Linked DNA regions of Homo sapiens: region 2 is linked to region 1. Evidence: fine-mapped expression QTL. A gene starts in region 1. The other region holds a variant in brackets. All regions are shown on one strand. Distances are between the middles of the regions. Region 1 holds the start of PAFAH2 (platelet activating factor acetylhydrolase 2). Region 2 overlaps PAFAH2 (platelet activating factor acetylhydrolase 2).

What was found. PIP is the estimated chance that this variant, and not a neighbour inherited with it, causes the effect.
Region 2: its variant is the best candidate, but not a certain one, in a credible set for the expression of PAFAH2 in transverse colon (GTEx, PIP 0.64).

The regions. Positions count from the first base shown.
Region 1 is chr1:25,995,566-25,999,955 of GRCh38, reverse strand. PAFAH2 (platelet activating factor acetylhydrolase 2) reads left to right here and starts at 1,893. Exons shown (of 11, transcript NM_000437.4): 1 at 1,893-1,931. RefSeq lists enhancers at 1,748-1,797, 1,808-1,897, 2,068-2,147.
Region 2 is chr1:25,960,866-25,965,255 of GRCh38, reverse strand. PAFAH2 (platelet activating factor acetylhydrolase 2) reads left to right here. Exons shown (of 11, transcript NM_000437.4): 11 at 3,173-4,390. The coding sequence ends at 3,267. It also overlaps the pseudogene RNU6-110P. Among named protein-coding and RNA genes, the nearest start is that of PAFAH2, 35 kb to the left of the region's middle. The variant G/T (reference allele first, on the strand shown) is at 2,325.

The DNA of each region.
Region 1 (4,390 bases):
AGGCATTTGGGTTGTTTATCCTAGAAAAGACCGGATTGGAAGGAAGTATAGTTAAACTCAACTGTTTTATTTTGCAACAGGGAAGAATCTGATTGTGCCCAAGGAAGAGCTTCCTAACTGTGACAAAGGAGGTAAAGGAGGTGGTGACATGCCCATCCCTGGGAAATTTTAAACTCAGCTGGCCAGCAAATGGCTCCAGCATGGCCTGGTCTGGGAGTAGGAGACTGAAAGAAATGACCTCCAGCTGTCCCTCTCATGACCAAGGACCTCTGGCTTGTCGTGAGTGTTCTGGCCAGCTGCACAGCACGGATTAATGGGCCAAAGGGAGCCGCTCTCTGATCTGCGCTAAGCTTTTCAGGTTCTGTGGCCACCGCCATCAGCCACAGATTTAATGAGATCCGAGGCTTAATTACCACAGTGCAGGGCTGCCAGCACTCTCTCCTGATGACTTTATCTTGGCTCCTGGAAGGATGGGGGTGACAACAGTGTGTCGGCAGGAGAGGAGAGCCTAAAGCAGGGACTCTGGACCCTGGTGTTTCGGGGGGATGTGGGCTGCAAGAGTAGGGTGGAGGGGGCGACTGCAGGACTCAGTACCTGACCTCAAAGAGCTCACAATGTGTCAAGAGTTAAGACCTCTAATACAGGAGATACCCAAGGCAGTGTGAGTCGACTCACATGTGCGAGGCACACACAGATGTCGGCGGAAACTTTGGAGGCATGAACAAAGCTCCCAGAGGAGGGGCGCTGAAGGGTGGGGGGTGGGGCGTGGGGGAGTGCAGGTTGGAGAAGACCTTGAATGTCAGGCTAAGCAGTTGGGACTTCACTTCATAGGTAGTAGAGGGCCGTTGAACGTTTTTGAGCTGCCTGAACGATCCAAATTTCCTATAGAAGTTTACAGAACTCCTGAGGATGGGCTCTGCCTAACGCCCACTCCCCCGAGAATACTCTCCTTCCATCCCTCACACTTAGCTGCAGCCAGCACTGAACTTAATGCCATACTCTGAAACGTCCTTCACAGTCTCTGTACTCCTGGCTACGTTCTTTCCTTATATCGGGTCTCAATGTTAACAAACATCACTCCCTCTAAAAAGCCTTGCGGACACCGCCCTTTTCCCCCAAGCCTGGCCAGAGGCCCCTTTTCAAGGCTCCCACGCTTGCTGTGTCTCCCCATGAGATCACGGCTCTGTGCTGTCATTATTCATTTGTCTGAATTCTCTGCTAGACTGTGATTCTGTTGAGGCTAGGAGCGGTATCTTGTCCATCAGTGTCGCTAAGAACCAGCATTAGACAGTAATGTGGGATGGATGCGGCCCAGCAGATTACTCGGGTTCCTCCCCTTTCTCTGCCAGGGAGTCTTTTGAGGACAATGGAAAATCACAGGTGTCAACAGATGCAGGCTGGTAGGGAATGTCCCCTTAATTTGAATGATCAGTCTATTATTCTTACAGGAAGCAAAGTGTGCAGAAGACACAAAACAAACTCCAACCTCCTCCCACCTCCTTGAGAATAAAGCGAAGCGGGGACCATTTCTAGGCACGCCTGAGGACTATTTGAGGAGGGTGAGGCGGAGGGTTACGCACGGGACTAAGGCAAAACCCTCCGCTCGAGAGCAGAAATCGCGGCGGCACCTCTTCAGGCCACCAGGGGGAGGAATCACACCGCATCCCAGGCCTTGGGCGGTTTCGCACGACCACGCGGGGCTGGACGGTCGCGTAGAACTCTGGGAGGTGTAGTTTTAGAGTTGTAATGCGCAATCTCGCGCACTGTACATCGGGAATTGTAGTTCTAGATTGAGGAACGAGAAGTGCTTCCAAGCGTCCATTTTGAGCCTTGGAAACTACGACGACCAAAGGGCCACGGGTTCATGGGTCGTTTCTCATTTCCGTCGAGTTAAACGTCTGGGGCTGCTTCTGAGGAATCAGCTTGACTGGGTAAGTTTGATTGGAGAAAACACCTATATCTCAATTGAGCTTCCTGCAGACTTTTGTATTCTGGCCCGGTTTGGGGCCTCGGCGTCTCTCAGTCATAGGAATTGCACATTAATCTTCGTCCTTTACGTTTCCTATTCAGACACCTGTAGCCACCCGCTCCCTTGACCCTCCCACGGTCGCCTCGCACTTTTAACGGCCAGTGCCCCTGGAATCCCCACTGAGCTCCCGTCCCAGGACCCAGCCCCCGCAGCCCCACCTTGGACCCCACAGCCCTACCCTGATTCCTCGGCCCTACCTTCACCCTGCAGCCTCACATCCCTGAACCCCGGGCTTCTTTATGCTCCTCCACCCTTTGTGTACTTTACTCTTACTCTCAGTTTTCTGTTTTTCATGGCGGTGGAAGAAGGGTCCCCATTCCTTCTTTCCGATCCGCGATTACCCTGGACTCGAAGTCAGCAGACCCGGTTCTAGGCCAGCTCTGCCTCTCACCCTCTGTGACCTTGGGCAAATCATACAACTCTGGGACTCAGTTTCTTCCTCTCTAAAACGGAGATGACTGTTGCTCCATCAGTCTCAGGTGAGGAGTGTTGAGGAGCCAACAAGCTAGTATGTGTGAAGATGCCTTGTAAACTGTAAGACCTTCACAAGAGACAGAGATTATTTTTATCACAATTATTAATGCTCTGGAACACTCTTATCAGGCCTCTTCTCTAGCTCTGCCACCTTGTTGCTCAATCTCATCCCTCGAGTGCTTGGTGTCTTCATTGTCTACGAGCTGGATGATATTTCCTCACTTCCTCCAGAGACCAAAGGTCAGGCCAATGAGCTTTTAGTCTTCAGAGAGCTTTGTCTGAAAGGAAGCACAAGAGAAGTGCTTATCTTGGACTGTATCTTGAAATAGCCAGTGATGAAAGTGTCACACAGCTGGCAGAGCAGCAGTCCTCTGCTCACCAGAAACAGGGTCCCAGCAGGAGAGGACAGCTGCAACCTAAGCCCCATCCATTCCCTCTGGGCTCCTCTGGGCCTGTTCAGTAGACACTGGCTTTGGTAGGGGTGTCTGAGGCCTGAAAAGGCTGCTGGGAAAGAATCTGTTTTGCCAAAGGGCTTAATCCAGGAAAAATGAGAGACCTTGGCTAGGAAAGAGAGACATAGCATTGTTAATTAGTTCCTAACATTTTATAAGCACTGAAAATGCACCAGGCCCTAGGCAATATTTTCACTTACGAAGTATCCATTTTACGTATAAGGAACTTGAGAGGCATGTAGTTAAAATAATTATAGTTGCCTCCTATGGTTATAGTACCTTCTATCCATCGAGTGCTTTACATGCATTATTTAATCCTCATCAACAATCTCGTGAGTAGTTACTATTTCTTTTTTTTTGAGATGGAGTCTCGCTCTGTCGCCCAGGCTAGAGTGCAGTAGCGCGATCTCGGCTCACTGCAAGCTCCGCCTCCCGGGTTCACGCCATTCTCCTGCTTCAGCCTCCCAAGTAGCTGGGACTACAGGCGCCCGCCACCAGGCCCAGCTAATATTTTGTATTTTTTTTAGTACAGACAGGGTTTCACCGTGTTAGCCAGGATGGTCTCGATCTCCTGACCTCCTGATCCGCCCGCCTCGGCCTCCCACCGCGCCCGGCCCATAGTTACTATTTCTTTTTGAGACAAGACCTCGCTCTGTCACCCAGGCCGAAGTGCAGTGGCACAATCTTGGTTCACTGTGGCCTCCGGCTCCCAAGCCCCAGCAATCCTCCTACCTCAGCCTCCTGAGTAACTGGGACTGCAGTTGCATACCACCACATCCAGCTAATTTTTTTTTTTTTTAATTTTTTTATAGAGACAGGATTTTGCCATGTTGCCCAGGCTGGTCTTGAACTCCTGGGCTGAAGCAATCCTTCCCATTTGATCTCCCAAAGTTCTGGGATTATAGGCATGAGCCACTGCGTCTGGCCATAGTTATTATTTCTGTTGTGAGAATAAATTATCAGAAGCTTAGAGTTTGAGGAACTTGTTCAAGATCACACAGCTAATAAGTGACAGGGGTAGAATTCAGAGTCATCAAAACCTTTGTCCCCCATTATTTCATATAGCCTTATTTTTAGATCAAAAACAAAGATTAAAGAAGACTTGAGATGGGTTTAAATCATAGCCAAATGAAGGAACATTTATTGAGTCCCAACTATATGGGGAAAGCATGCAGATAGACAGTTTGGTCTACAAAAAAATATAAAACCCAATCTTTACCCCCGGAGTAGATCTGAAGAGATGAGGCATAAGTGTGCCAAAAATTAAATAGTATTCATTGGATAAATTAATTATTGAGACCAGCTATATGCAGGGCACTACATTAAGTCTAGTGATAGGAACATGCTTCTGGGTGGCCATGGGGATTATAGCAAGTGAAATCGTAGTCGTGAAAATGTGGACCAGAACACAGTATATACTCAGTAAGCGTCTGCT
Region 2 (4,390 bases), 35 kb after region 1:
TTTATATATGCTGAGAGATATGGGTCCTGTTTCATTCTTCTTCATATGGCTATCCAATTTTTCCAGCACCATTTGTTGAATAGGGTATCTTTTCCCCATGTATATATTTTTGTTGACTTTGACAAAGATCAGTTGGTTGTAGGTATGGGGGCTTTATTTCTGGGTTCTCTATTCTGTTTCATTTATCTATTTTTCTGTGTTTATACAAGTAACATGCTCTTTTGGTTACTATAACCTTGTAGTATAATTTGAAGTTGGGTCATGTGATGCCTCCAGCTTTGTTCTTTTTGCTTAAGGTTGCTTTGACAGGCTCTTTTTTGGTTCCATATGAATTTGAGGACTTTTTTTCTAATTCTGTAAAAAATGGCGTTGGTAGTTTAATAGGAATTGCGTTGAATCTGTAAATTGCTTTGAGCATTATGGTCATTTTTAACAACATTGATTCTTCCATTCCATGAGTGTGGGATGTTTTTTCCATTTGTTTGTGTCATCTACAATTTCTTTCATCAGTATTTTGTAGCTCTCTTTGTAGAGATCTTTCACCTCCTTGGTTAAATGTATTCCTAGGTTTTGTTTTGTTTTGTTCTTGTTTTTGTTTTTGTTTTGGTGGCCATTACAAATGGGATTGAGTTTATGATTGGGTTCTCAGCTTGATTGTTATTGGTGTATAGAAATGCTACTGATATTTTTGTTTGTTTCTTCATTTGTTTTTTATAGAGACAGTGTCTCACTTTATTGCCTGGGCTGGTCTCAAACTCCTGGGCTCAGGCGATCCTCCTGCCTCAGCCTCCCAAAGTGCTGGTGTTATAGGCATGAGCCAGTGCACCCAGAAAAATCACCACCACTGATTTTTGTACACCAACTTTGTATCCTGAAACTTTACTGAAGAGTCATTTTATTTATTTATTTATTATTTTGGCTTCCTCAATCATGGTATTATTATTTATTTCTCTTTAAAAATATGGAAAGCTTAACGAATTTGCATGTCATCCTTGTGCAAGCGCCGTGCTCATCTCTGTATTGTTCCAGTTTTAGTATATGTGCTGCCAAAGCGAGCACTGAAGAGTCTTTTCTTCATAGAGCAGCCAGAGTGATCCTTTTAGGAATTTAGTGAGATCTTCTCACTCTTCTGCTCCGAATTCTCCAGTGGCTCCCAGTCTCCCTAAGAGCCAAAGCCAGACTCGATTATCCTGCCAGGTATATGTCATGTGGCCCTCCAGTCCCTCCTGGCCTCCTCCCCTGCTGTTCTTCCCTTGGCTCACTTCACTCTCACCACATGAGCCTCGAACGCGCCAGGCACGCTGCAGCCTTAGGGCCTTTGCACTGCTCCTCCCTCTGTCTAGAACATTCCTCTCAGATAGTCTCGTGGCACACTCCCACTTCCTTCAAGCCTGGCCTCAAATCTCACCTTCTCAGTGAGGCCCACCCTGACCACCCTTTTTAAAACATTGGCCTGGCCAGGCACCGTGGCTCACGCCTGTAATCCCAACACTTTGGGAGGCCGAGGCGGGCGGATCACAAGGTCAAGAGATCGAGACCGTCCTGGCCGACATGGTGAAACCTCGTCTCTACTAAAAATACAAAATTAGCTGGGTGTGGTGGTGCATGCCTGTAGTCCCAGCTACTTAGGAGGCTGAGGCAGGAGAATCACTTGAACCTGGGAGGCAGAGGTTGCGTTGAGCCGAGATTGACCACTGCACTCCAGCCTGGTGACAGAGCAAGACTCCATCTCAAAGAAAAAACAAACAAACAAAAAACATTGGGTCCTTCCTTTCTCCCTTCACTCCAACCCCTGGCCACCACCAGTGCTTCCCTTAACGGGCTCTATTTTTTTTCCATGGCACCTCTCCCCTTTTCACATCCTATATAGTTATTATGTTTATTGTTTGTCTCTGCCACTAGATGATGAGCTCTGTGAGGACAGCAGTTTCCATCTGTTTTGTTTGTGGATATATTTTTAGCTCAAAGAACAGAGTGTGGCACATAGTGGATGTGCTTATTGTTTTTTGAATTAATGACTATGTAGTACTTATACATTGAGGACCTATTCCGTGCCAGGTTCCTGGCAGGGCACTGGGAATCCAAAAATGCATGAGAGTGGTCCCTGCCTTCTGTCCCAGAGTCTGTTTGTTTTGAGGAAGGACACCATTCATCTGCTTAGCTTGCCCTGCTCCCTCAGCCTGAGGGCTTGGACCCTTTGTGCCTGTTCTTGCCGTGTAGTTACCCCTATTGGCTGTGAGCTCAGGGCCCCTTCTTGAGTCATTCCTGGAGTTTCGCTGCTCCATGATGTTGCTGTCCTCTTGCTCCTGCCCTTCACTGAAGTG[G/T]TCCTGGATTTGCACCCACAGGCTGAGCTGTCAGATACTGCTTTTTGCCTAGTAACCTCCTTGAGCCTGGAACTAGACTTTTCATTTTCTCAGCCTTTTTTTTTTTTTTTCTGAGACATGGTCTTGCTGTTGCCCAGGTTGGAGTGCAGTGGCATTATCACAGCTCACTGCCGCCAACTCCTTGCCTCAAGCAATCCTCCAGTCTTGGCCTCCTGAGTAGGTAGGACTTCAGGCACACACCACCATACCTAGCTAATTTCTTAATTTTTTTGTAGAGTTGAGGTCTTGCTACGTTGCCCAGGCTGGTCTAGGAACTCCTAGCCTCAAGTGATCCTCTTGCCTCAGCCTCCCAAAGCACTAGGGTTACAGGCATAAGCCACCATGCCCAGCCCTCTCTGCCTTTCTGACTTGGATTTGAATTCTGTCTCTACCACTTAATAGCTCTAATGACCTTGGGCAACTCAGGTAGCTTCCCTGATCCTCAGTTTCCTGAATTACATAATAAGATTAGTATTAATACTTAGTTCATAGGGATATGGTGAAAATTAAATGAAACCATGAATGTAAAGCATTTAGTACAATCCTTAGAATGAATTCTCCATCAATAAATGTTACCCTCTGTTATTATTATCGTTATTGAATTGTTATGGATTATGTAAGTCATTTATAAAGGCACTGAATAAATGATAGTTATCGTTACCGCCACCACCACACAACCCCACCAAAACCAGTCCTTTTGGTATCCCAGGCGCTCCTCTCTCTAGGATGACCCCTTCAATGCATGTCAGCTACTCTTTGACCAAACCTCACAATGATTTGCCTAATGTTCCTGTTTTTTTCCTTTTCAGACCTGAAAGAAGACTATAATCAATGGAACAACCTTATTGAAGGCATTGGACCGTCGCTCACCCCAGGGGCCCCCCACCATCTGTCCAGCCTGTAGGCACAACTGGCCATTTGTAAAGTCACTTCAGCCAAGTTTTCATTTGGGAGCTACCCAAGGGCACCCATGAGCTCCTATCAAGAAGTGATCAACGTGACCCCTTTTCACAGATTGAAAGGTGTAATCACACTGCTGCTTGGATAACTGGGTACTTTGATCTTAGATTTGATCTTAAAATCACTTTGGGACTGGGATCCCTTGCTGATTGACAAACAGACTTTCTGGGACCTTGATGGAGTGGGGAACAAGCAGTAGAGTGGGACTGGGGGAGACCCAGGCCCCGGGCTGAGCACTGTGAGGCCTGGATGTGAAGACTCAGCCCAGCGAAGCTCATTCCCTTACCCCCGGCCAGTGCTGCTGCTTCAGTGGAAGAGATGAAGCCAAAGGACAGAATGAAAATCCCTACCTTCAGAGACTCTAGCCCAGCCCAACACCATCTCTTCCTACCTCTCAGCCTTCTCCCTCCCCAGGGCCACTTGTTGAAGTCTGAGCACTTTATGTAAATTTCTAGGTGTGAGCCGTGATCACATTTTCTATTTATTTCCAAGTCTTCTCATTGTATGGAACATAGTACTACTTATACTTACAGTAGTAAGTTATACTTGTGAGCCCACAGAGTGGCAGACAGCATGGCTCTCACAGCACAGGGAGAAAAACTGAGGTACACAGAGGTACCTCAGAAGCTCTGGATGTCTTTGGGGGTTTTGCTAAGTGTATCTTGATAGGAAACAACAAAAGCAGGTTGAGATGGGGAAGATGACAGAACAACAGTGTTAAATGGCCATTTGCACAGGCCTTTGCCACAACAGAGAAGTAGTTTGGTCAGCTAAAACTCAGCTGCAGCCTGGACAGTAGAGCGAGACCCCATCTTAAAAATAAAGAAGGCTGGGCGTGGTGGCTCATGCCTGTAATCCCAACACTTTGGGAGGCCAAGGCAGGCAGATCACTTAAGGCCAGGAGTTCAAGACCACCTGGCCAACATGGTGAAACCCCGTCTCTACTAAAAATACAAAAAATTAGCCTGGCGTAATGGCAGGCGCCTATAATCCCAGCTACTCAGGAGGCTGAAGCAGAAGAATCACTTGAACCTAGGAGGCGGAGGTTGCAGTGAGTCAAGATCGCG